Regions from separate parts of the Homo sapiens genome. Here regions 1 and 2 are each linked to region 3. Evidence: fine-mapped expression QTL. A gene starts in region 3. Each other region holds a variant in brackets. All regions are shown on one strand. Distances are between the middles of the regions.

Region 1 (8,187 bases), 42 kb before region 3:
TAAACTAGTAAACTGCAGAACCAAGATTCAAACTTCTGACTTCAGAGTTCATTATGCTATTCTGCATCTCCAAAATGAGGAGGGAGGGGTATAAAAAGCAAAAAAAAAAATTTTTTAAGGCACAAGCATCAAACACTTAAAATCACACTATTATAATATCTGAGGCGATAATTGGTACAATTTTTTTTAACATAAACATGGCAAGTACATGCCACGTAAGTCTAACTCTCAACTATAGTGGAATTCATATTTCCTACCAAGCAAGAAAGATTTCATACTTTTTACTTTACGTATAAGGACATTAGTCCTATTAAGTAGATAAAACTAAATTAGATAATATCTTTAATACTGTACTTTATTTTATATCTCAATTGAATGATGTTTAATAAAAGAATAAAGAGAAAATTTATGTACTTTCAATCATTTTCTTTTCTTTTTTTTTTTTTGAGACAGGGTCTCATTCTGTCGCCAGGCCTGGAGTGCAGTGCAGCAGTCATGGCTCTCTGCTGACTCAACCTCTCCAAGCTCAAGTGATCCTCCCACCTCAGTCCCCACGGTAGCTGGGAACATGGGCACGCACCACCACGCCTGGGCTAAGTTTTGTATTTTTTTTTTTTTTTTTTTTTTTTTTTTGTAGAGGCAAGGTCTCACCATGTTGCCCAGGCTGGCTTTCATTTTCTCGAACTTCAAAGTAGCCTTAGCACTACTGGCACTTGGGACCAGATGAGTCTGTGTTGAGTGGCAGAGTGGGGCTGTCCTCTGTCCTGTGCATTGTAAGATATTTACCAACATCCCTTCTGGCCTCTAGACACTAGATGCCAGTAGCACCACTTCCAGTTGTGACAAGCAAAAACGTCTCCAAACACTGTCAAATGTCTCCTGAAGGTGTCTATGATTTAGATGGATATCATTTGGATATCATCCACCAAATCTCATGTTAAAATCTGATTCCCAATGTTGGAGGGGGGCCTGGTAGGAGGTGATTGGATAGTAGAGGCAGATCCCTAAAAACGGCTTGGTGCCATTCTCGTGGAAGTGAATGAGTTTTCACTCATAGTTCCTAAGAGAACTGGTTGTTGAAAAGAGCCTGGCACCTCTTCCTCCCTTTGCTTCCTCTCTCACCATGTAATCTACAGACACTGGCTCCTCTTCACCTTCTAATATTTGTGGAAGCACCCTGAGTCCCTTGTTAGAGTTGTATAAAAAGCAAAAAGACTTTTTTTAGAAGACACAGGCATCAAACACTTAAAATCATACTATTTTAATGTCTGAAGACATAATTGGTATAATTTTTTTAAAACATAAACATGCGAAGTACATGCCACTTAAGTCTAACTCTCAACTATACTATGTTGGAGTTATGCTTTTTGTACAGCCTACAGAACCATGAGCCAAATAAACCTCTTTTCTTTATAAATTACCCAGTCTCAGGTATTTCTTTACAGTAACAAAAATGAAGTAAGCCATGATTGGATTGGGAAGGATACAAAAATCACTGCAGGCTGATAACTACTTTTTTTGAGATAAGGTTTTACTCTGTTGTCCAGGCTGGAGTGCAGTGGCATGATCATAGCTCACTGTAGCCTCAAACTTCTGGGCTCACACAATCCTCCCGCTTCAGCCTCCCAAATATCTGGGGTTACAGGCACACATACCATACCTAGCTTTTTTTTTTTTTTTTTTTTTTTTTGTAGAAACAGGGTCTCACTATGTTGCCCAAGACTGGTTTTGAACTCCTGGCCTCAACCAATCCTCCTGCCTCGGCCTCCCAAAGTGCTGGGATTACGGGCATGAGCCCCCATGCCTGGCCTTAACAGCTTTAAATCATACATTCTCAACTGGGGCAATATCCCTAAGGGGAATAAAAGTGGTCCTTATGGAGAGTTGGAAATCTTAAACACTACAATGGTCTGTAGCCCTCCAAAGTTCAACCCTACTGATAACATAGTTATTATATACTGTATATCTGTAGTATTAAAATATCTGAAGGGGAGAAGGCCCATTAGGCCATTAGGGAGAAAACAGGTCTAAAAATGCTCCTTAGGAGGGAATAATGAGAAAAATGGCTGAAGAATACTGCTTTAAGTTATGGATTATAAAATTAATTTCAATGTATCACTCTGAACTAGGACAAATCCACAGATTTATTTTATGAAACCTAAACACCAAACCTATTCACCAAAACAATAAAGAACACATAAATTCAGACAAACAAATAAATAAATAACAATTCAAAAGCTACAAAGGATAAGTGTATTCAATTCATAATTAACTCCGGTTTCTTCAGCTAACATTAAACAACTAAAGGGCAAGAGAGAGCAGTAATAGTACGGTACTCTCTCTCAACCCTGGTAAGAAGACAGGGGTAAGTAGCAAAAATAGCTGACAATCAACAGTCCTAACCAATTTCAATCCCTGCAAAAGACTGCATCATCTTTAATTAAGGCTTTGTAATAACATCACAATATGATTAATAATTTGGTATAAGGTAAGCGACAGATATGCAATGGTTTATTGCAAACCAGGTGAGGCAGGGCTGGGAACACTTGTGTCCAAGAATAGAGCTGGTACTGTAATGCCTAACCTTGTTTTTACTCTAACTCGCTACTTTAAATTTTGTCCTGTTTGTCTCTTTAATCACCTAGCCTTGCTTCTCAAGTAAGACTCTCTCTAGCTGGGAAAGCCGGACAAACTCCAATTGACCCCTTAATTTACAAGACACTAAGGGCTCCTTACCCAACCTCCTTCCGCAAGGAGTTGACCTGTGTAAGCAGATCCTCAGCATTTCAAAGGAGCCCAATTAACTGATAAGGTACTGGCACAAACAATGTATGAAGTTCCCAGGATTTTTTTCAAAGAGATAACAACATAAAGCCTTGAGTTCCTGTCCGGCATAGCATTTATATCTAATTATAATGAAGGATTTAGAGCCCTGCACCTGGTACCTTGCTTTTTGTAACCATTTGTCTTTTAAATTGTTTATCTCTCTGTAACCATTTGCTTCTTTTGATTCTTGCATGTTTTTACTTCTGTAGAATTACTGCATTTGAGTTCCCCTCCCCTTCCTAAACCAAGGTATGAAAGTTAATCAAGCCCCTTCCTCCGGGCCGAGAGAATTTTGAGCATTAGCCGTCTCTTTGGCCGCCAGCTTAAATAAAGGACTCTTAATTCGTCTCAGAGTGTGGCGTTTCTCTAACTCGCCTAGGTATAACAGTACTCAACAAAGTGAAGAATCTGAAGTTCGTGGCTCTGTTAGTGTAATACAACCACCAAAACATGTAAATCTATCCCAGATAGACTTATCTGTTCTCATGACATAGTGAAAACTATATATTCACTCTCATTGTGCCTGGGCCCAATCTTCTCCTCCCACAACTCCACTATTCATAGCCTATGACCCTTCTACATGGTGGCAGAGGGAGAGAACCATTTAGATCACTAAGGAAAACTGACAAAGTATAATCCATTTATGAACAATCAGAAGTAGCTGATTAATCACTTAATTACTGACACTTGTTTAAATTTTTGATAAGGTAATTAATTTTATATTCAATAGAAGAAAAGGAGTATGTCTTAATTTATAACAATATTAAACACAGTCATAGGTCAGGCACAGTGGCTCACACCTGTAATCCCCCCATAAAAAAAATTTTAAAAATTGAGGAATGAGTTGGCTCCAATGATGGGTCTCAGATGGGCTAATTTTTATAGACATAGTCTCTGAAAGAAATCTGTCAAGGAATCATATAGAGACACTTATCTGCATGCTCATTCTCCATTAATATAGAAAGGAGAATTGGCATTAGACTGTTTCAGCAAATAAAAGTAAAATCAAGATTTATAAAGAAAAGAGGAGAGAGAGGTTCCAAGATGGCCGAATAGGAACAGCTCCAGTCTGAAGCTCCCAGTGTGAGCGACGCAGAAGACGGGTGATTTCTGCATTTCCAACTGAGGTACCGGGTTCATCTCACTGGGGCTTGTCAGACAGTGGGTGCAGCCCACGGAGCAGGGCAGGTATCGCCTCACCCAGGAAGTGCAAGGGGTCAGAGAATTCCCTTTCCTAGCAAAGGGAAGCCATGACAGATGGTACCGGGAAATTCGGGACACTCTCACCCTAATACTGCACTTTTCCAATAGCCTTAGCCAACAGCACACGAGGAGATTATATCCCACGCCTGGCTCCGAGGGTCCCATGCCCACGGAGCCTCGCTCACTGCTAGCACAGCAGTCTCAGATGAACTGCAAGGCGGCGGCGAGGCTGGGGGAGGGGCGTCCGCCACTGCTGAGGCTTGAGTAGGTAAACAAAGCCACCGGGAAGCTTGAACTGGGTGGGGCCCACCACAGCTCAAGGAGGCCTGCCTGCCTCTGTAGACTCCACCTCTGGAGGCAGGGCATAGCTGAACAAAAGGCAGCAGAAACTTCTGCAGACTTAAACGTCCCTGTCTGACAGCTTTGAAGAGAGTAGTGGTTCTCCCAGCATAGACTTTGAGATCTGAGAACAGACAGACTGTATCCTCAAGTGGGTCCCTGACCCCCGAGTAGCCTAACTGGGAGGCACCCCCCAGTAGGGGCAGACTGACACCTCATACAGCCGGGTGCCCCTCTGAGACGAAGCTTCCAGAAGAACGATCAGGCAGCAACATCTGCCATTCCGCAATATTTGCTGTTCTGCAGCCTCCGCTGGTGATACCCAGGCAAACAGGGTCTGGAGTGGACCTCCAGCAAACTCCAACAGACCTGCAGCTGAGGACGTGAAGGTCCTGACTGTTAGAAGGAAAACTAACAAACAGAAAGGACATCCACACCAAAACCCCATCTGTACGTCACCATCATCAAAGACAAAAAGTAGATAAAACCACAAAGATGGGGAGAGACCAAAGCAGAAAAGCCGAAAATTCTAAAAATCAGAGCGCCTCTTCTCCAAAAGAACGCAGCTCCTCGCCAGCAACGGAACAAAGCTGGATGGAGAATGACTTTGATGAGTTGAGAGAAGAAGGCTTCAGACGA[T/C]TGGTAATAACAAACTTCTCCAAGCTAAAGGAGGATGTTCAAACCCACTGCAAAGAAGCTAAAAACCTTGAAAAAAATTAGACGAATGGCTAACTAGAATAAACAGTGTAGAGAAGTCCTTAATGACCTGATGGAGCTGAGAACCATGGCACGAGAACTACGTGACGCATGCACAAGCTTCAGTAGCTGATTTGATCAAGTGGAAGAAAGGGTATCACTGATTGAAGATCAAATGAATGTAGAGGATCATGCCTGTAGAGGATCAGTTAACGCAGAACTGGACAAAACACTTGGGAAAGGAAAAATATCCTTATTGTGTCATTTGCTCCACTTGTGCAGCCAAGTAAGAATGATAATGGTAAACCAGATTCTGTGGGACTCCCTCCCTGTGCTGTCAGGAATCCACAGGGCTTGGCTTGTATTTACATTCGACGCACACTTAGAAATTTCATAAATGATGAGATGCAGGCCAAGGGGATTCCGCAAAGGGCTCCACCCAAAAGGAAAAAAAAAAAGAGAGTTAAACAGAGAACTAACACATACATATTTGTGGGTAATCAGCTTATTCCTCAGCCTCTGGACAGAGAGGAGGATGAAAAAATGGAAGATAACAAAGAAGAGGAAGAAAAAGATCACAGTGAAGCAATGAAGCCAGAGGAGCCACCTCAAAATTTACTGAGAAAAAAATCACAACGCTGCCCCTTCCTGAATCTTTAAAAGCTTACTTGACATATTTTAGAGACAAATAGTTTAGATCAAGGAGAAAGAATGCCACCAGTAATTCCCTTAGTCTTGAAAATGTAGCGTTTGTTAGGAGTTAAGAGAGAGAATTATTTCTTTCATCAGAGCGAATTATAGTGGAAAAAAGCAAAACTTGTTTCTGTCAGTAACAATAATAATGTAAAAGAATCCCTTTTATAAAATCTATTTTTCTTTAAATCTTGGAAGAATGCTGTTTTAGCTCAGAGTGATATCAAAGTGGAATGAAACAGTAATCAAGACTTGTGTACTATAAATCCTTTTCTGATTCCTTACAGATTTGTAGTGGTAAGGGTTAGATTTAATTTTATATAAGGTTTAAATAATCATCAAGCTTATATAATGTGATCTGAATTGCAGTTGTTTGCATTTCCTCTATAAAAACTTTCTCTAATAAGGAAATCAAATGCTTTGTAGACCTATTTACCTTACTTTTGTTGCAGTCACTGTTGCTGGGATGCTGTACATATATTCCGGGGTAATATATGGGTACAAAACTGTACAAGATATTGAATAATTTAGCTTTAAAAAATCCCACAAATTTTATGAAATTTTACAGTCCTGCTACTTCTGCTTTTGAATCTCTTGCCAGAAGACATGGGTAAAATATCTGCTTCTCTCATTTTAAGAGCACAGCCAAGTGAATTATTAAAATAGAAAGTATACACTTAATACAGCTCTTAGTTTGTATGGACCCTTTACATTTTCAGTATTTTTTCTTTAATGAGGTTATCTTAACTCTCTAGCATTTTAAAAGTGTATTTAGAATTGTTTTTCCTGTAGTTCACTATATAAAGCATTTGGTTTGAAAAAAAAATTGTTACGTGTGACTCTTGATAAGACACAGAAAGAGTGAAAGAGCATGAGTGATGGCCACCTTCCTGGCTGTCTCTAAGTAGCAGGGTAGATATGATCCCAGATGCACTTTAGCAAACGGAACTTCCAACTTATCTGAGTATTTATCTTTGACAAGGTAGGGCTAAGCTTGCCTAGATTTGCTTTGGATCTTTCTAGTATAAGAAATATTCACAGAAATTGTTTGTTTTCAAAATCCTGTTCTGAAACATATCGTAATCTTTGGGACCCATGCCATGTTCATTTCACTTCTTCCCATATTTTTCGTGTTTCTTTTGGTAAAATTATAATGGCTTTCATTTTGTACTTAATATCACACACGTAAACCATCCATCATTTGAGCTTTATTGTAGCTTATCAGTGATAAAAACAGGCAGTAACTGCCATTGTTTGTTTGTTTTCCTAGTAAGGCCTGAAAACAGACATTCTTTGTTAAGAAGGTGTACAATGTAACATATTTACTAGTATTACATGGATTATATATTTCTTAAAGGGAAAAAATTTGAGAGTATCATGGACTACCACCAGCATTGTTATTACAGTAGTTGCTCAGATTTGGTTAAGGAAGCCCAATCAATGTATAGTGAAAGTATTATTATATCTCTGCTAAGATTCAGATATTGTTTCAAAAATCTCAGCTCCAATAATTCCACACACCTAAAAACAAGTGTTTATACTCATCTAAGCATGAAATTGTCCCAAGTAAGTGAGGATATTTCAGTAATGTGAAAGATACTTTCATGGAAGGTATCTGTTTTATACCAGTGGGTGGGGTGGTAGAATTGGGAGTATTTCTACAGTTATTCTTAGATGATTACTGAAATGCCCCATCTCATTTCTATTTAGGAAAGGAAAAATCAGTTTCATACTACTGTTGTCACCTGTCAGAAATGTTCACTTTATTTTGAGTTAAATGTTGCTTTAGAAGTTTAATCTTGAATTCCTGGTGACCACATGTTTATATCTGGAAAACTTGTGGAGAGTTATCATCTGCCCTTTCCCCCACTTTTTTTTTGGTTAGAGCTTCTGTTTAGATGTGTAAAGACAAATATTCTTAAATGATAATTTTACTATTTAGGAGGGAGTTTTTGTTGAGGATATATTTGAAGATTGGCTTTTTCATATTGTCTTTCATTCTTTGGCCTTGGCAAAGTGTACAGTAGATTTTCATGATCATTGCATACTTTTTGTCATTGAAATATATCTTTTATTTTTTAAATGCATTCATTTTACAGTTGTGACTTTATCATTGACTTTAAGAGGTAGAAACAAAAATGAAAATTAAAGTGAAAAAAACATACAGAATGCCTACAAATCAATCAAGACAAATAACCTAATTTAAAAATGGGGAAAAGATGTGAATAGGTACTTCACAAGACCCCTTCCAAAGGGCTAATAAAAATATTAAAACACAACCTCAGTACACTAGCAAAGCAGGGGGCTGGTGAGGATATCGAGGAACTATAACTCTCATAAATTGCTGATAAGAATGTAAATTGGTTCAACACTTTTGCAAAGCTGTTTGGCAGTATCTACTTTGGCAGAAACATGTCTACCCTACAATTT
Region 2 (8,187 bases), 25 kb before region 3:
GTACAATAAACTGCAGATATCAAAAGTGCATAATTTGTTAAGGGTGAACATATGTATACACTGTTGAAATCACCTCCACAATTAAGATAAACTTTTCCATCACCTCAAAGTTTCCTCATGCCCGGTTGTAATACCTGACTCCTCCCAGCTCCCGTTCTGCTTTCTGTCACCATATATTAGTTTGCATTTTCTAGAATTTTACGATAATAGAATCATACAGTATGAACATTTAATCTAGCTTCTTTCCAATAGCATAATTATTTTGATTGATAAATTTCGTCCTATGTGTCAAGAGTTTGTTGGGTTTTATTGCTGTTACTATTCCACTGCATGAATATAACACAATTTGTTTATCTACCTTTTAATAGGTGTTTGGACTGCTTCCAGTTTTGAATTGTTTCAAATAAAGCTGCTATTGTGTGCAAGTCTTTGTATGGACATATGTTTTCATATCTCATGGGTTAGTACCTAGGAGTGGAATGGCCAAGTCATAGAATTGTATATGTGCTTAAAAAATTGCCGCATAGTTTTACACAGTTGTACTATTTTATATTCCCACCAGCGGGTTTCAGAGTTCTAGTTGCTCTATATCCTCACCATCATTTGATATGGTTTGTGTTTTTAAGTTTAAACATTCATGTATAAATGTTTAAAGTGGTATCTCCTTGTGATTTTAATTTGCATTTATTTCTCTACTAACTAAAAATGTTGAGAAACTTTTCTTATGTTTATTTTCCATCCAGATCTTCCTAAATGAGGTGTCCAAGCTTTTTCCTGTTTTCTAACTGAATTTATTATTGAGTTTTGACAGTTCTTTATATACTGTGGATAAAACTCCTTCAGGTTTGAAAATATTTTCTCCCAGTCTACAGCTGTCTTTTTGTTTTCTAAAAAGGGTACTTCAAAGAACAAAAGTTTTTAATTTCAATAAAGTCTAATTTATCGGTTTTGTCTTATGGTTCATGCTTTTGTGTTGTATGTAAGGAATCTCCGACTAGCCTGGTTCACAAAAGTTTTCTTCTATATTTTCTTCCAGAAATTTTACATGTTCAAGCTTTACATTTTGATATATAGTCCTTTTTGAGTTTATTTTTATAACATGTGAAACAATCAAATTTTATTTTATTGCATATGGATATCTAATTTTTCCAGCATCATTTGTTTAAAACACTGTCATTTGTCTATTGAATTGTCTTTGCACTATTGTCAGAGATCAATTAACCATACATACGCAAGTCTATTTCTGGATTCTCTGTTCTGTTACACTGATCTATTTGCTTTCTTTAGACTAATACCACACTGTCTTAATTACGGTAGTTTTATTTCATGCGATCGTAGAAGCAATTTGTCAGCATCTACACACACACACACACACACACACACACACACAGAGCCTGCTGTGATTTTGATTGGGATCACATTGAATGTATACACCAATTTGAGGAGAATGGACATCTTAGCTATATTGAGTCTTCTGATCCATGAGCACAGTATATTTATTTAGGTCTTATTTTATCTCGCTGAGTGATGTTTTATGCTTTTCATTATAAAAGTTTTACTTTTGTCTGATTTATCCCTAAGAATTTCATTTTTCATGCCGTTGTAAATTGTATTATTTTCTTAATTTCAACTTGTTTGTTTTGTTGCTAGTATATAGAAATATAACTTTAGTATATTGTGTATTATTTCTGTGATAGTTTTTTTGTGGGTGGGTGTGTGTGTGTAAGACAGGGTCTCGCTCTGTCACCCAGATGAGAGAGCTGCGGTGCTATCACAGGTCATTGCAGCCTTGAGCTCCCGGGCTTAAGCAAGCCTCCTGCCTCAGTCTCCCAAAGTGCCGGTATTAGACACTGAGTCTAGCCTATTTCTAGTGATAGTTTTTAAAATAAATTTAACAGGATTATCTACATAGATGATCATGTCTTATGCAAATAAAGGCTGTTTTTACTTTCTCCTTTACAATCTGGAAGTCTTTTATTTATTTTTATCTTGCCGTATTGCAGTGGCTAGATCCTTCAGTGTAATGCTGAAAATAAGTGCTGAGAGCAGACACCCTTGCCATGTTCCTATTCTTAAGAGGAAAGCATTTTCCTTTCACCATTAAGTATGATGTTTGCTGTGGGTTTATAGTAGATACCTTTAATAGATTAAGGAAGTTACTTTCTATCCTGAGTTTGCTGAAAATTTTTATCATGAATGTGTGTTGAATTTTGTCAAATACTTCTTTTCATATCTATTGAAATGATCATGTGGTTCTTTTTTAGTTTATTAATATGATGAATTACATCAATTAATTTTCAAATGTTATACCAACCTTACATTTCTTGGATAAAATTCACTTGGTCATGATGTATTATCCTTTTTATATATTGTCTTATTAGGTTTGCTAAAATTGTTAAGAATTTTTGCATCTATGTTCAAGAGGAATATTGGTCTGAAATTTTCTCTTCTCATAATGGCTTTGTCTGGTTTTGATATCAGAGTGATGCTGGCCATATAGAATAAGTTGCAAAGAATTCCCAACTTCAGTTTTCTGGAAGAGTCTTATAGAATTGATATTCTTTGTTCCTTTAAGGCTTGGTGAAATTCACTGTGCGGCCATCTAGCCATCTAGGCATCATTTCCTCTAGTGCACATTCTAGCCATCTAGAATTTTCTTTGTGGTAAGGTTTTTAACTACAAATTCAATTTCTTTAATAGATATAGGGCTAATCATGTTACCCATTTAGTATTTAATGAGCTTGATAGTTGTGTCTATATTGTAATTTTTTTAACTTTATATTTTCCTGGTGCCTCAATATCCCCACAAATAGGCTATAACCACCCTGCCCAAGTGACCAGGTGTACCAGGGTGATAGGCTATTTCCTGCCACGTCCCGACTGTGACCTAATGACATTCAAAAAGCACCAATGAAATCCCTTCCCAGGTTTTCTTGTGTACTCTGCTCTGACCCCCAGTAAAGGCACTTGCCCATGGGTCCTCACTCTCTCTAAGCTCGAGCATGCTCCCTTGGCGTTCAAACCTTATATGTAGCCCCCATGTGGCATGTCATGCCTCCCTTTTCTAGAACAAATGAGTATAATGACGTCTTTAATTTTATATGCCTCTCTGGAATTTCCATGGCCAAACTGGAATGATCTTTAAATATCCCACAAAGGGGACTTACAACACAGTGTTTTTTTAAGGAATTTGTCCATTTCATCTGAGTTGTCAAAGTAATTGGCATAGTTATTTATAGTATTCCCTTAGTATCCTTTTAATGTCTGTAGAGTCTATAGTGATGTCACCACTCTCATTCCTAACATGGATAATTTGTGCCTTCTCTCTCTATCTCTCTCTTTCTCTCCCTCTCTCTCGTATTAGTCAGGCTAGAGGTTTATAAATTTTATTGGTTTTATTGATTTTCTCTCTTGCTTTTGTTTTCTATTTCAATTTATACTCTGGTCTTATTTTCCCTTTTCTATCTATTATAGTTTCATTTTCTCTTATTTTTCTAGTTACTTAAGGTAAGGGCTGATTTGAGATTTTTCTTCATTACTGATGAAGGCATTTTGGTGCTATAAATTTTCCTCTACATACTGCTTTAGCTGCATCCCACAAATATGATGTTGTGTTTTCATTGCCTTTCAATTACAAGTGCTTTTATTCCCATTTTGACTTTTTTTCTTTGGCCCATGGATCATTTACATGTGTTATATAATTTTCAAACATTTGAGATTTTTCCATGTATCTTTGTTATAGATTTATAATTTAATTCCACTGTGGTCAGGGGATATACTTTAAGATCTAAATCATCTTAAGAATATTGAGCCTTGTTTTATGGCCTAAAATATGGTCAATCTTAGTAAATGTTCCATTTGCACTAAAAAAAAAAAAGAATGTGTTTTCTGCTGTTCTTGGTTAGTGTGTTCTATAAATGTCAATTAGGTGAAGTTGGTTAATACTGTTGTTCAAGTCTTCTATATCCTTACTGACTTTATGTCGACATGACCCATTGGTCAAGGGAAGCATCTAGGTCATTAAGTCTGTCCTACAGCATCTAAGAAGCCCTGGGACAAGAAGCAAGAGCCATCAGTGTAGGTCCAAGGGCTCTGTCAGCCTCAAAGTATGTCTATCTCAATTATGTATATATAGGGAGAGTAGAAGTAAAGAGTGGGACCAGACCCATTTTACCTTCTGTGAGATTAACTTTGGCCAGGACGCCATTTGTCACTGAGCTTCCCTACTCTAACCAGTGAACCACAATGGTATTTTGGGTCTTCTGGAATCCATGTCAGGTCAGGCACTGTATCCAACAGTCATTGGTTGAAAAAAAAAATCTGACTATTCCTTTTTATCCATTGCACAGTTACCTTGGTAAATGATGGTACGTGACTGCCCCTTGGAGAAAGGATTAGGGGGATATTTACCAAATATATTGGATGATCCTTCCTCGAGGGGATCTGGGCCTTCCCTTGCATCATGAGCTTTAGATCTGGAAACTGGATGGGGAACTATGGTTTTTCATTACCAAGATTGATGTCAGCCTTCTCCTTGCCAATTCTCAATTTTCTTTTTTGAGGGGTGAGAGGAGTCAAATAATACAAGTCAATCAACATCATTATATAACAAGTCAATTATACAACTCAAATAACATCCTAATCAGCTGTCCTTCTGTCTTGCCCCTTGGAACATCATGAACTTTACCTTGTTCACAGATTCATGCCTAGGTGCCCATTAAGTTAATTAGGTCCACTGGGCCCCTGACAGTTAAGTTCTGCAACTTGGCCTTCAAAATTTCAGCATCCCATCATCTATCTACATTGATACCACAGAGCCCATTGTCATGACAGCATCTTCCATCATCAGTTCTAGCCTGTAGAGGTCAATCAACCATTGCCAAGCTTTTCAAAGTTTCCAGTATGCTCTTCACCATTACATTTCTCTTTGTTGTTGTTTGAGACAGGATCTCACTCTGTCACCCAGGCTAGTGTATTGGCATGATCAAGGATCACTGCAGCCTCAACCTCCTGGCTCAAGCAGTCCTCCCACCTCAGCCTCCCAAGAAGCTAGGACTACAGGCATGCACCACCATGCCCAC[C/T]GTGTGTGTGTGTGTGTGTGTCTGTATAGACGAGCTCTCACTATGTTGCCCAGGCTGGTCTTGAACTCCTGGGCTCAAGCAATCCTCTCACTTCAGCCTCCCAAAGTGCTGGGATTACAGGTGTGATCCACTGCACCTGACTACCATTATATATTTTTTTGCCTTAGTTATGAATATCATCTGGACCCTCCCAGGGAAAAGTCGGGTGATAACTTCTCCAGTTTCAAACAACAAATACATCCCTGAGCTTTCTGACCGCTTCCTCAATACTATGTCAGATAACTGCTAGCATGCCTATCATATCTTCTATATGCCATCCTTGCATTGTGTTAGGAGCAACTCCAGAGATTCTTGCCAGGGAATTAAATCATGCATCATGAGTGAGCGCTCCCATGTCACTCTCTCCTATCAAGCCTTATATTCCACCTCCACCCCACCCCTTGACTCAATATCCTCAAGATCTACTCTCAGACATGTTTCCTGGGTTCCTCCCAATACATTTTAACCAGAATCTGCAGTTGATTCAGAGTGAAACCTATCCTCCTAGAGGAAGGACTGTATTCCCCAACTTAGGGTTTGCTAAGACCTGATCCTAGTTATTACTTTGGAGTCAATGAGAGGAAACAAGGGTGGATCTTGAGGAGGATAAGTGTTACCTTGTGATGCAACTGCCTCAGATAAAGCCTTTACAGAATCTCAAGGTAAGGGCAGGCTATTCTCCACTAGAAAATTGGAGGACACGGCTTGTGCCAGCTCAGAGTTCATGGAAACCTGAGGATTCAAGATTCTCAGGCTCACCAACACAAATGTCCCATCCTGTGATTTAGGGTTCCACTGTTTTTGTGTCAGCACTGACTTTGCTGGGGACTAGCAAGGCTGTGCATTCTGTCTCCTCTGCAGCCCTGCCACCTTTACTATTAGATTTGGGCCTCATTGGCAGCACAGTCTGCCCTGCATCTGCAGATGAGTTTCCTGAAAGTGCTACAGAGGGACTCTGGCTTTCACAGCATTCCTTGAGTTAAATGGCTATCATGAGCCTGTGTCATTTTCTTTTTCAAAGCTCCTAAAGCATTTCACAGTAGCAAGTGAATACTTAATCTTTATAATTTCCACTAGTCCCATTTCACTGTAGTGGCACAGCGACTGCATAACCTAGCACTTCACCTGCCACCTGCACTTCATCCAAATCCACTGCAGTAACTGATCCAGTCACAGGATACTATCCTGAGTCTTTGCTGTCAAAGGCCATTCCTGGTACTAACCATCTTAGCCTGAGTTTATCCCTTGCCCAAAAGCAAAGCCTAAGACAAATGTTCTTATACCTGTAAGTGTTGTTATACAAGTAGTTTATTTGGGAAGTGATCTGAGGGAACTAGAGGGAGGGGTAGAGGAGTGGAAAAGGAAAAAAGAAAGATAAGGATATATTATTATTGAGTTGGCCACTGCTATGGGTGACTGGAGCTCAACGATAGGACTTTCTGAGGAAGTTTATGAAATGCATTTCAGAATTGTCTTCCCAACAGACGGGAGAGCACTTATGTATTGGGCTTCCACCTCCCATTAATCAAGAGTGGCCCCAAAGTCACTAGCTCCCCAACATCTTTGGGCTGCATATGTATCATACAGTGGGGTTCTAGTGGGCATCCCAAGCCACAGTGTCAGAAGATCCCTGCAGAAGGAAGCAAGAGAGCCATGACATGCGCCCAAGACAAGGTGCCATCAAATGGCTTCCGCTATCAGAAGCCTGCTGGAAAGTGTTCCACAGCAGTAATGGAGTAAGAAACGGGGCCAAGAGGATTTGCAGTGGCACACAAGATGTGTCCAGTACAGTCATAGACAATGGGTGGTTGACAACACAACGTAAAAATCAGTAGATATCTTCAGCCTGAGAAAGATTGAAAAAAAAAATCAGTAATATCACTAGAAAATGGTTGTAAAATTTTGAGATAGTTTTTATTTGAAAACATAACATTACAAAGTTTGAAAAATAAAAAAATTAATGATTTTAACTATTTTTTTCTTTTGTTCTCTTGTTTTTAACTTACTATTTTGAATGACAAAAAAATGGCTCATATGTTTGTCCAAAACCCTTGATAATATCTTTAATTTTTTAAATACCTGAAACAGTTAAATTATTATGTACTAAAAACATTTACTGTACTCTCAGACAGACTCATATAAAATAACCTCATTTGTCAGGAGAAAGAAAGGTACATACAAAGTAGTAAATTATGAGTTTTGACAAAAGTAATAGGCATTTTTAGTTATTTAAATAAATTAAGGAAACATCCCAAAAGACATTTATACAGTAAAAAAAAAAAGTAAATAATTTCAGGAAAAATAAACTGTATTATTACATTTAAATAAACATGAAAAAGATACTTGGATGATGGTTTTAATTTCTCCAATAGTCTTCATGAAGGTTTTGTAGCTGATGGCAATGGAGCTTTTCCTTTCCACTTAGCAGCCTTTTCCATTTTCATCTGTAAATTTAACATATTTATTGATATAATAACTTGTAAACCATTCTAAAGAAAAAAAACTTGCAGAAAACTCATTCAGATTCATGTCACAGCCATTCCACAGTTATTAAGCTGCTAAATACTAAAGCCAAAATCTGTTAAAGGGACATAATTACACATTTTCAGATGGTTTTATTTTAATTTTACAGAAGCATTTTAATAAAAGTAATATATGAATATTGCTTTAGAGAAAACAATTTCAATTGCCACTAAAATTACAAGTGCTTAAAATGACTAAACTTACATCCAGCCTATGCACATTCCCTACAGAGTTACATAATGCACCTAATCCAGCTGGATTCTCTCTGGAACGTGGACTGCTTTAAGGATAGTTTTCTATAATTCTGGTTTCTATATTCCCACAGTTACCTTTCTGAAAGTCTTTTCCTCCTCCATTGTAGTTAAAGCAAAAAAGCAGCCACTGTGCCCAGATGTGTATTGGGTAATTTTAACGAGTCTGGATACACCTAAAAGCCTCTAAGAAGAATAAATAATACATATTAAGAATTCAAAATAGGCACCAGGCGCGGTGGCTCATGCCTGTAATCCCAGCACTTTGCGAGGCCGAGGCGGGTGGATCACGA
Region 3 (8,187 bases):
TATATAAAGGACAATTGTTAAATGTTTCTCAATCATTACGATTTGTAGAAGTAAGATATGCTTAGCTTTTTATTTTCTAATTATCAAAAAACTTTGCAATAAAGTATCTTACCTATGTGTACAAAAACACAGTGTCTCTGGGCCCACAAGTTTACAATCCATCCCTGTTGGTGACCGCCAGCTCACAAATAATCTGTTTTGTAAGCGCAGAGGTAAAACTTTTCTTTTGTATTCTTCATATTCTTCAGGAGTAAAAAGTTTCCCTCCATCATCCTCACCAACAATTCTACAACAAAAATATATATTTCTCTTAAGCTTTGAGTATTTATTTTCTGGGTGAGCTATGACCAGGCCACTGCAAATATTAAATAAATTTGTAAGCTTTTATTTTGTAAATCTGTCTTTTCTTACAGATGTGGCAGGCCGGGTCTCTGTAACAACTGTTTCAGCACTGACTGAGTGGTTAAGTTAAATATTAAAAGCTAATAGAACCAGGGTCCTTATACAAAGGCTGGAATGTAACAAAAGCCCACCGAGCGTTTGCCCAGGCCTTTCCTGGGCCTCGAAGCATGACAACATAACGAAGGAATTCTTAAAGGACCCGTTTGGGACTAAACAAGTTTTACTGGGGGTCTGAAGAAACTCCCCAGACCTCCACAAACAAGTTTACTGGGGGTCTGAAGGAACTCCCCAAACCTCCATGATTCAGCAGGAGACAAGACCAGAGTAATCACCCCAGCACCTGGACCCATTTAGATTAACTAAATTTACTGAGGCTCCAGAGGAAGGTCTTCAGGACTCAGATCTTAGTTATAGATTAGAAGTTAATCATTTATGTCTTTAGATAAATGCACACTTACACATAAACATATATATACTTATAAACATATGTAATTTTGAATTGGTCTGGCGATATCTTCCAGGCCTTCTCCCTATAACCAGTTACAGAAATAATCTCCCTTCTTTCCCAGTTCATCTGAATCACATTACTGGGCCACGAGAATAGGCAGCCCAACTATCGGTTTGATCCAGAAACATAGGTGTCTCAGCCATGAACCTAGTGATGGGTGAGAAAAGAAATCTTTTCTCCCCTCCACTTCCTATATAAGAGGGTTATAAATAGGAAAGACAATGAATTCATAATGCAACTTTACTGATCCAGGTTTATCAACAGAGGATTACCACATATTCGTCTCAGCTTTTCCTTTGATATTGAAGCAAAGATGTTCATTCCTCTCATTAAAGGTAGAGCCTTAACTGCTCAAAATTCTAACATTTACCTCCTTTGAAAATGTATCCCAAAAGAGTACAAAAAACATCAAAGCAGAAGCCAACATGACTAATTTCCATACCTGTCTCCAAACCCTGGCCAGGGGTTTAAACTAATGCGGAACCTAAATACACACTTGGCTCAGCACAAGCTCCAACCACATCTGTGTGTTAGGTAATCAAGTTTATCATGGGTTAATTTCAGAAGTAAGAACCCAAAATATTATGGGAAAACATAAAGCCCCCACTATTTCTATGAAAAGAAATTAAGAGTTGGCCTCCCTGGAGGAAAAGAAAGCACGACTAAAAGAAGTTTTTCCAAAACTGAAGACATTTCTCCCTGAAAATACTCCCCTTGAAAAGTCACAAAAAGTGATGTTTGTGGAATGCTACATACTTTTTTGTGCAATACATGCTTTTTTCCATACTTTGAAGCCTTTAGCTGCGGTAGAAAATAAAAACCATTGCTCTATGTACTTGCCATTAGAAAAAAAGAAAAACCAATTTATAAGCTATGAAATAATCAAAACCGCCTTCTTTACATAAACAATCTAGATACATAATAGTAAAGAAACAAAGGGCATTTAATTCTGAGATAAATTTTGGGCCATTTCATTTTCTTGTAGCTATCAAGAATACCAACAGGTATTAAGATCTTAAGATAAATACGGATCTTTAAAAGATCTTTTAAAAGTAAGATGTCATTGGTATTTAAGTTCTAGACCAGTGCAACTCAAATTTTATTGTACTTACAGAATCCCCAGGGGATCTTGCTCAAATGCAGATTAAGACTCACAGCACAGTGGCTCATGCCTGTAATCCCAGGACTTTGGGAGGCGGAAGCAGGAGGATCACTTGAGGTCAGGAGTTCGAGCCCAGCCTGGCCAATATAGCAAAACCCTGTCTCTACCAATAATACAAAAATTAGTATTTTGGTGGGCACCTATAATCCCAACTACTCTGGAAACTGAGGCACTGAGAATCACTTCCACGGAGGCAGAGGTTACAGTGAGCTGAGATAGCGCCACTGCACTCCAGCCTGGGCAGCAGAGCAAGACTCTATCTAAAAAAAAAAATAATAATAATAATAATAATAATAATAAATATATATATACATACACACACACACACACACACACACACATGATAAAGCCAGATGTGGTGGCTCACACCTGTAATACCAGCACTTTGGGAGGCTGAGGTGGGAGGATTGCTTGAGGCCAGGATCTCAAGATGAGCCTGGGCATCCTAGTGAGATCCCATCTCTACAAAAAATTTTAAAATTAGCTGGGTGCGGAGATGCATGCCTGTAGTCCTAGCTAGTTAGGAGGCTGAGAAGAGAGAGTCGCTTCAGCTCAGGAGGTCAAGGTTGCAGTCAGCCATTATAGTGCCACTGCACTCCAGCCTGGGTGACAGAGCGAGACTCTAAATAATAATAATAATAATAGGTCTGCAGTGGGCCTGAGATTCTGCTTTTCTAACAAGCTAACAGGTGATGCCAGGACACTGGTCAGGGCCTCCCACAGTGTGAGTAACAAGGCTGCATGCTTCCCCTCCCAACCGACTCCCACCGAAGTACCTAGGCAAGAGCAAATCCAGGAAAACTCTTCGGAAGGAAAGTTTGTTTCCTTCTAAACTCATATTTTGACTCATCTTCCCACCCCACCTTCCCAGCCCACCTTTTCATATCTAGGTACTCAAGTCCTGTTTTCCCCACTTTTCTAAAATTCTGACGTCAGTAAAGGACCTGATAATCTCTTTCAGAGGGAAGTGTTGCAAGTTATTTACGATTGCAAAAATAATTTCCCAGCCGGGCGCGGTGGCCCAGGCCTGTAATCCCAACACTTTAGGAGGCCGAGGCAGGTGGATAGCTTGAGTCCAGGAGTTCAAGACCAGCCTGGGCAACGTGGTGAAATCCCGTCTCTACAGAAAATACAAAAATTAGCTGGCCGCCTGTAGTCCCAGCTACTCGGGAGGCTGAGGCAGGAGAATCACTTGAACCCAGGAAGCGGAGATTGCGGTGAGCCGAGATCGCGCCACTGCACTCCAGCCTGGGAAAGAGTCAGACCCCGTCTCAATAAAATAAATAACTAAATAATTTCTCAATAAAATAAATAACTACATACATAGGTCTGCCCTAACATGTTCGGAGCTAGGCAAGAGTCAACTGGAGGCCCACAATTCACATATCTAAATATCCAAGTTATCAGTCAACACCAGCTCCAGCAACTTGCTCCCAGGCAAAAGCTCTGGAGAACTGGAGGCTAAAGGAGCCGGCTCTGCTCTGGGAGAGGACGGGATGGTGGTTGTTCTGACCCTGAACCGGGCGTGGGAACTGACCCCATCAAGCTCCTAGCCCTTATTCTTCTGGCTCAGAATATCCAGGCAGTTCTAAGGGTTACCCAAAACTACACAAACAGGGCAGTCAGAGCAGGGGAGAACAGTCAGCTGGGGGGCCGTCTGCGCGCACACCTCTGGGTCATCTGGGCCACCCACGATGCCGCAGAGGAGCCCCTGTCGCTCGCTCCGGCCTCCCTGGCGGAGCCTGGAGCGTCTCCCCTCCGCTTGTACACACACATCCTCCCGCCCCAACTCCGCGTCCTCAGGCGGTCCTCTCCAGGACTTCCCATCCGCCCAGATTCCGGACGATCAAAAACCCCAGGAAGCGGAAAAAGAGCGCGTCGCTGCAGGTGCACCAGCCTCGGTCAGGATCCAGGACAATGAACCGCGTCCTCAGGCCAAAGGAGCGACTCCGTTTCCAGTTTCGGAAGGGGTTTCTCCAGAATACCAAACACCAGTCGGTGCCTTTCTCCTAAAACCAGCACCTCGGGGTGGGGAGCGCGTTCAGAAGTTCACGGTTGACTCAATTACTGGGTTAATTTGATGTATGCTAACTTCTATAGCCCCGAGTACTCGATGTGCCTGTTTTCAATGGCCATTTAAAAAACAGCTGGACCTCTGTATCAATCTAGAGTTAGTCATCCTTCTTGGAAGGGAGCAGAGGGGCCTCTTAAATGTTATTGGAAGACTCATCACTGCATAGAACCGCGTGGCCCTACAATATTTAATTAGGCAAAGACTAAACTGGAATTCATCTAGGCCTCCCCCAACAGCCCAGGCACAGATTCCGGGAACCCCCGCGGACGCCCGCCGGGCCCCTGCTCGCGCCCCCAGCCCAGGGATCCTGGCCCCTCGGAGCGGCGGGGGGGCAGGCCCGGAGCCACAGCCTCACCTCCGGTACTCCAGGTACTCGTCCACCGCCGCCGCGCCGCCGAGAGGCAACGTCAACCGCTCCATTGCCGGTGGGGAAGCCAAAGGCTTCCCTGCGGACCAGCTGACCTCGAAGCCCGACCCGCCCCGTTCCCTCCCGGTACCGCGCCCCCTCCCGCCCGCCTCCTGATTGGCCCGGCCTGAAGCCCGAGGAGGCCGCGCGCGGCAACTGCGCAGGACGCGCGCCCCTACTGGCTGCCGGCGCCAGGCACCAGAACCCGGATCTCCGCAAGCGCAGCCTCGCGCCACATGGAGTGCAGTTTGCCGCCCTCCACAAACCTTGCACCTATTCCCCTCTCCCTTCCCTGGACCGGCGAGTCTTCTTGTAAATTAACAAGTGACAAGGGAGTGCAGTGCCTTGCATATAACAGGCGCATAGAAAATGGCTTATTTCTTTGTACAGCTCTTTTCGCTTAATCCATCTCTTGAAATATAAGTAGTTTTGAGAAGGTTCTGCTTTAGTTTGAGGCCTGCCTCTCCTTAACTGTCGGCCTGTTTCCAGTATTGGCGTTTTCAAAAACTCTGATGTAACAATCAGTAGTCCTGGGTATCTGGGTTCACTTTGGGGGTTGCTAAAGCTACATGTTCTTCAAAGGAACCGAATAACTGATTTAAGGTGAAGCAAGTAAAAACAATTTAGGTGAAGTTTTGTTGTTGTTTTTTAACTTTTGGAAACACTCTGCAAAATATATTTAGAAGCTGAATTACCATGCGATTGGTAATTTGGCCATAATTTGACTTAGCACGTTGTGGAAAAGAATAGGAAATCTTCAGGCGAAGTCATTAAACTCTGAAGCTCCCAGGGGATCAGCTTTAGCGCCCTCTGTAAAGTATCTGGGAGGGAGAATATGCAAACAATAAGAAAAATAATTAAACTTCAGTACAGTACTTTAGTTTCAAAGTACTGTTCTACATATTTCAGGTCCATAAAACATTATGTAAACAAATTGTTTGGGTACCACCCACCTCCCTTCTCGGTACCCTTTCAACAAACCCCACCCTCTCCCCAAAGTCTTCCTCCTGTTCAGAGGCGTTCTTGACAGTCAGATAAATGAGTGATCCTGAAATCGGATTCATATTTTAGGAAACTGATCTCAGCTCAGTATTCTCTCCTATCACACGTGTGGTTTGCTGCTGTCCATTTTACCTCTTCCACCCGACACCTCCCAGATGGGGTCTTGCTCCGTCTCCAAGGCTGGAGTGCAGTGGCGGGATCTCGACTCACTGCAATCTCTGCCTCCTAGGTTCAAGCAATTCTCCTGCCTCAGCCTCCTGAGTAGCTGGGATTACAGGCACTAGCCACCACGCCTGGCTTTTGTGTGTGTGTGTGTGTGTGTATTTTTAGTAGAGACAGGGTTTCACCATGTTGGCCAGGCTGGTCTTGATCTCCTGACCTCGTGATTTGCCCGCCTCAGCCTCCCAAAGTGCTGGGATTACAGGCGTGAGCCACCACGCCCAGCCCCATTCTACCTCTATGAGAGCCTAGTCTTGCTTTTAGGCAGCAACTGAACTAACAAAGAAAAATAGAAGAAAATGCCAGGCTCTGCAGGCTTACAGAAAAGTGGCAGGGGAATGTCTGTGTAGGCAAGTACAATTTAAAAATCTAGAGGGAAATGGTTAAAATAGATTTAGCCCAATTGTGGACTCTTCCAGGAAGATGCTGGAGCAGTAAACTCTTCTGGCCAAAGAAGTCAACAAAAATATTGAGCGTGACGAATAAGAGTATGGAACAAACTAGAAAATGTTATCCTGACCTTACATAAAGCTGACAGATTTGCAAATTAAAATACTGTATATGGTACTCACCTCTGCTTTAATAAAAAGGTATAATCAAACTATAACTTCCTCCCAATGTGTAGCTAAATTGATCTAGGAAGTAGGGTGGACAGAGGAACATGTAAATTGCCTAGGCAAGTGTTAGGCATTTTATTTATTCAATCCTCATGAAAGTTTATGAGATAGGATTTGCCAGCATTTTGCTGTGATGTATAGGTTAAGAATGCTTTCTTCTGAAAATAACAGAATAATTCAACTAACAGTGGCTTAATTAAACATAAATTTTATTTTTTATTGCTTTAAAGAAGAGTGGGGGTAGGTAGTTGCTCACATTGGTTTAGAGCATTTTCCTCATGGTTGCAAGAGCTGTTACAACTCCAGAAATCATACCCAAATTCAAGAAAGGAAAAAGGAGGGCCACCAACATCATTTGTTTCTTTTATCAAAGAGTTTTCCTAGAGGCCTCTGCAAAAAAATTTTCATTTATGTCTCACATGGCCACACCTTGGTATAGAGAAAACTGGGAAAGCCAATCCAGTACTTAGTTTTCCAGGCTCTATGATGGCAATTGTCAAGGAGAGGGTTAGAAATGTGTGTTGGGGCAGGGCACGGTGGCTCATGTCTGTAATCCCAGCACTTTGGGAGGCCAAGGCAGGTGGGTCACCTGAGGTCAGGAGTACATGACCAGCCTGGCCAACATGGTGAAACACCATCTCCACTAAAAATACAAAAATTAGCCAGGTGTGGTGGCTCATGCCTGTAATTCCCGCTACTGGGGTGGCTGAGGCAGGAGAATTGCTTGAACCCAGGAGGCAGAGGTTCCAGTGAGCTGAGATGGCGCCATTGCACTCCAGCCTGGGTGATAAGAGTGAAACTCCATCTCAAAAAAAAGAAAAAAAGAAATGTGTGTTGGGTTAAAAATGTGTTTAGTTCACCAAGAAACATGGTTGGTGACAGCTTATCCTTAAACTGATTAATATCCATGCATGCCCTTCTTCCCATGCAGGCATTGCACACTAAAGGCATTCATCAGACCTCTAAGTAAGGCAGTCCCAAAATCTCAACCAGCTACTGCACCCAGCTTAAAGTCTAAGTCTCTGCAATCTTCTCTCAGTCATTCTTAATCCTGATCAGCCTGATTCTTATTGTCTTAATGGTTTGACAGTTGATAGCTACAAGACAAGAAAGATAATTATTCAGTATGTATCTCCAACAGATAACTTGTTTTTTCGTTTTTTGTTTTTTGGGTTTTTTTTTTTTTTGAGATGGAGTCTCGCTCTGTCACCAGGCTGGAGTGCAGTGGCATGATCTCAGCTCACTGCAGACTCCACCTCCTGAGTTCAAGCGATTCTCCTGCCTCAGCCTCCTGAGTAGCTGGGACTACAGACGCGCACCACCACGCCCAGCTAATTTTTGTATTTTTGGCAGAGACGGGGTTTCACCATGTCGGCCAGGATGGTCTCAATCTCTTGACCTCATGATCTGCCCGCTTCGGTCTCCCAAAGTGTTAGGATTACAGGCATGAGCTACCACGCCCGGCCAATAACTTGTTTTAAAATCCACAATGCCATTATCACACCTAACAAATTAAACAATAATTCCTTGATATCATCTAAGAATACCCAGCCTAGATATCATCTATTAGATATCATCTAATAAACCTAATTTATTAGATGATAATTAGTGTCATCTAATTTTATACTAATTAGAATTCAACCAAGGCCTATACTACCTTTGGTTTATATGCGTTTAATATATTACGAGTCTTTTGTAATTTTAGACAGTTCCCTTTCTCCTATCCCAATTTTTTGTGCCATTAATTTGTTGAAGAATTTGGATCACTTTTCCTGTAGAATATCTTTCTGAATTTGG

Evidence for each region. PIP is the estimated chance that this variant, and not a neighbour inherited with it, causes the effect.
Region 1: its variant is the best candidate, but not a certain one, in a credible set for the expression of FAM221A in whole blood (INTERVAL, PIP 0.67).
Region 2: its variant is the best candidate, but not a certain one, in a credible set for the expression of FAM221A in whole blood (TOPMed, PIP 0.63).

The regions. Positions count from the first base shown.
Region 1 is chr7:23,718,876-23,727,062 of GRCh38, reverse strand. The region is part of intron 4 of STK31 (serine/threonine kinase 31); the gene reads right to left. It also overlaps the pseudogene PCMTD1P3. Among named protein-coding and RNA genes, the nearest start is that of STK31, 13 kb to the right of the region's middle. RefSeq lists enhancers at 2,472-2,999, 3,000-3,527. The variant T/C (reference allele first, on the strand shown) is at 5,008.
Region 2 is chr7:23,701,473-23,709,659 of GRCh38, reverse strand. It overlaps FAM221A (family with sequence similarity 221 member A), which reads right to left. Exons shown (of 7, transcript NM_199136.5): 7 at 7,010-7,564. The coding sequence ends at 7,496. Among named protein-coding and RNA genes, the nearest start is that of STK31, 4.7 kb to the left of the region's middle. The variant C/T (reference allele first, on the strand shown) is at 5,082.
Region 3 is chr7:23,676,598-23,684,784 of GRCh38, reverse strand. FAM221A (family with sequence similarity 221 member A) reads right to left here and starts at 4,586. Exons shown (of 7, transcript NM_199136.5): 1 at 4,502-4,586; 2 at 113-286. The coding sequence starts at 4,566. RefSeq lists an enhancer at 3,783-4,032 and a silencer at 4,363-4,652.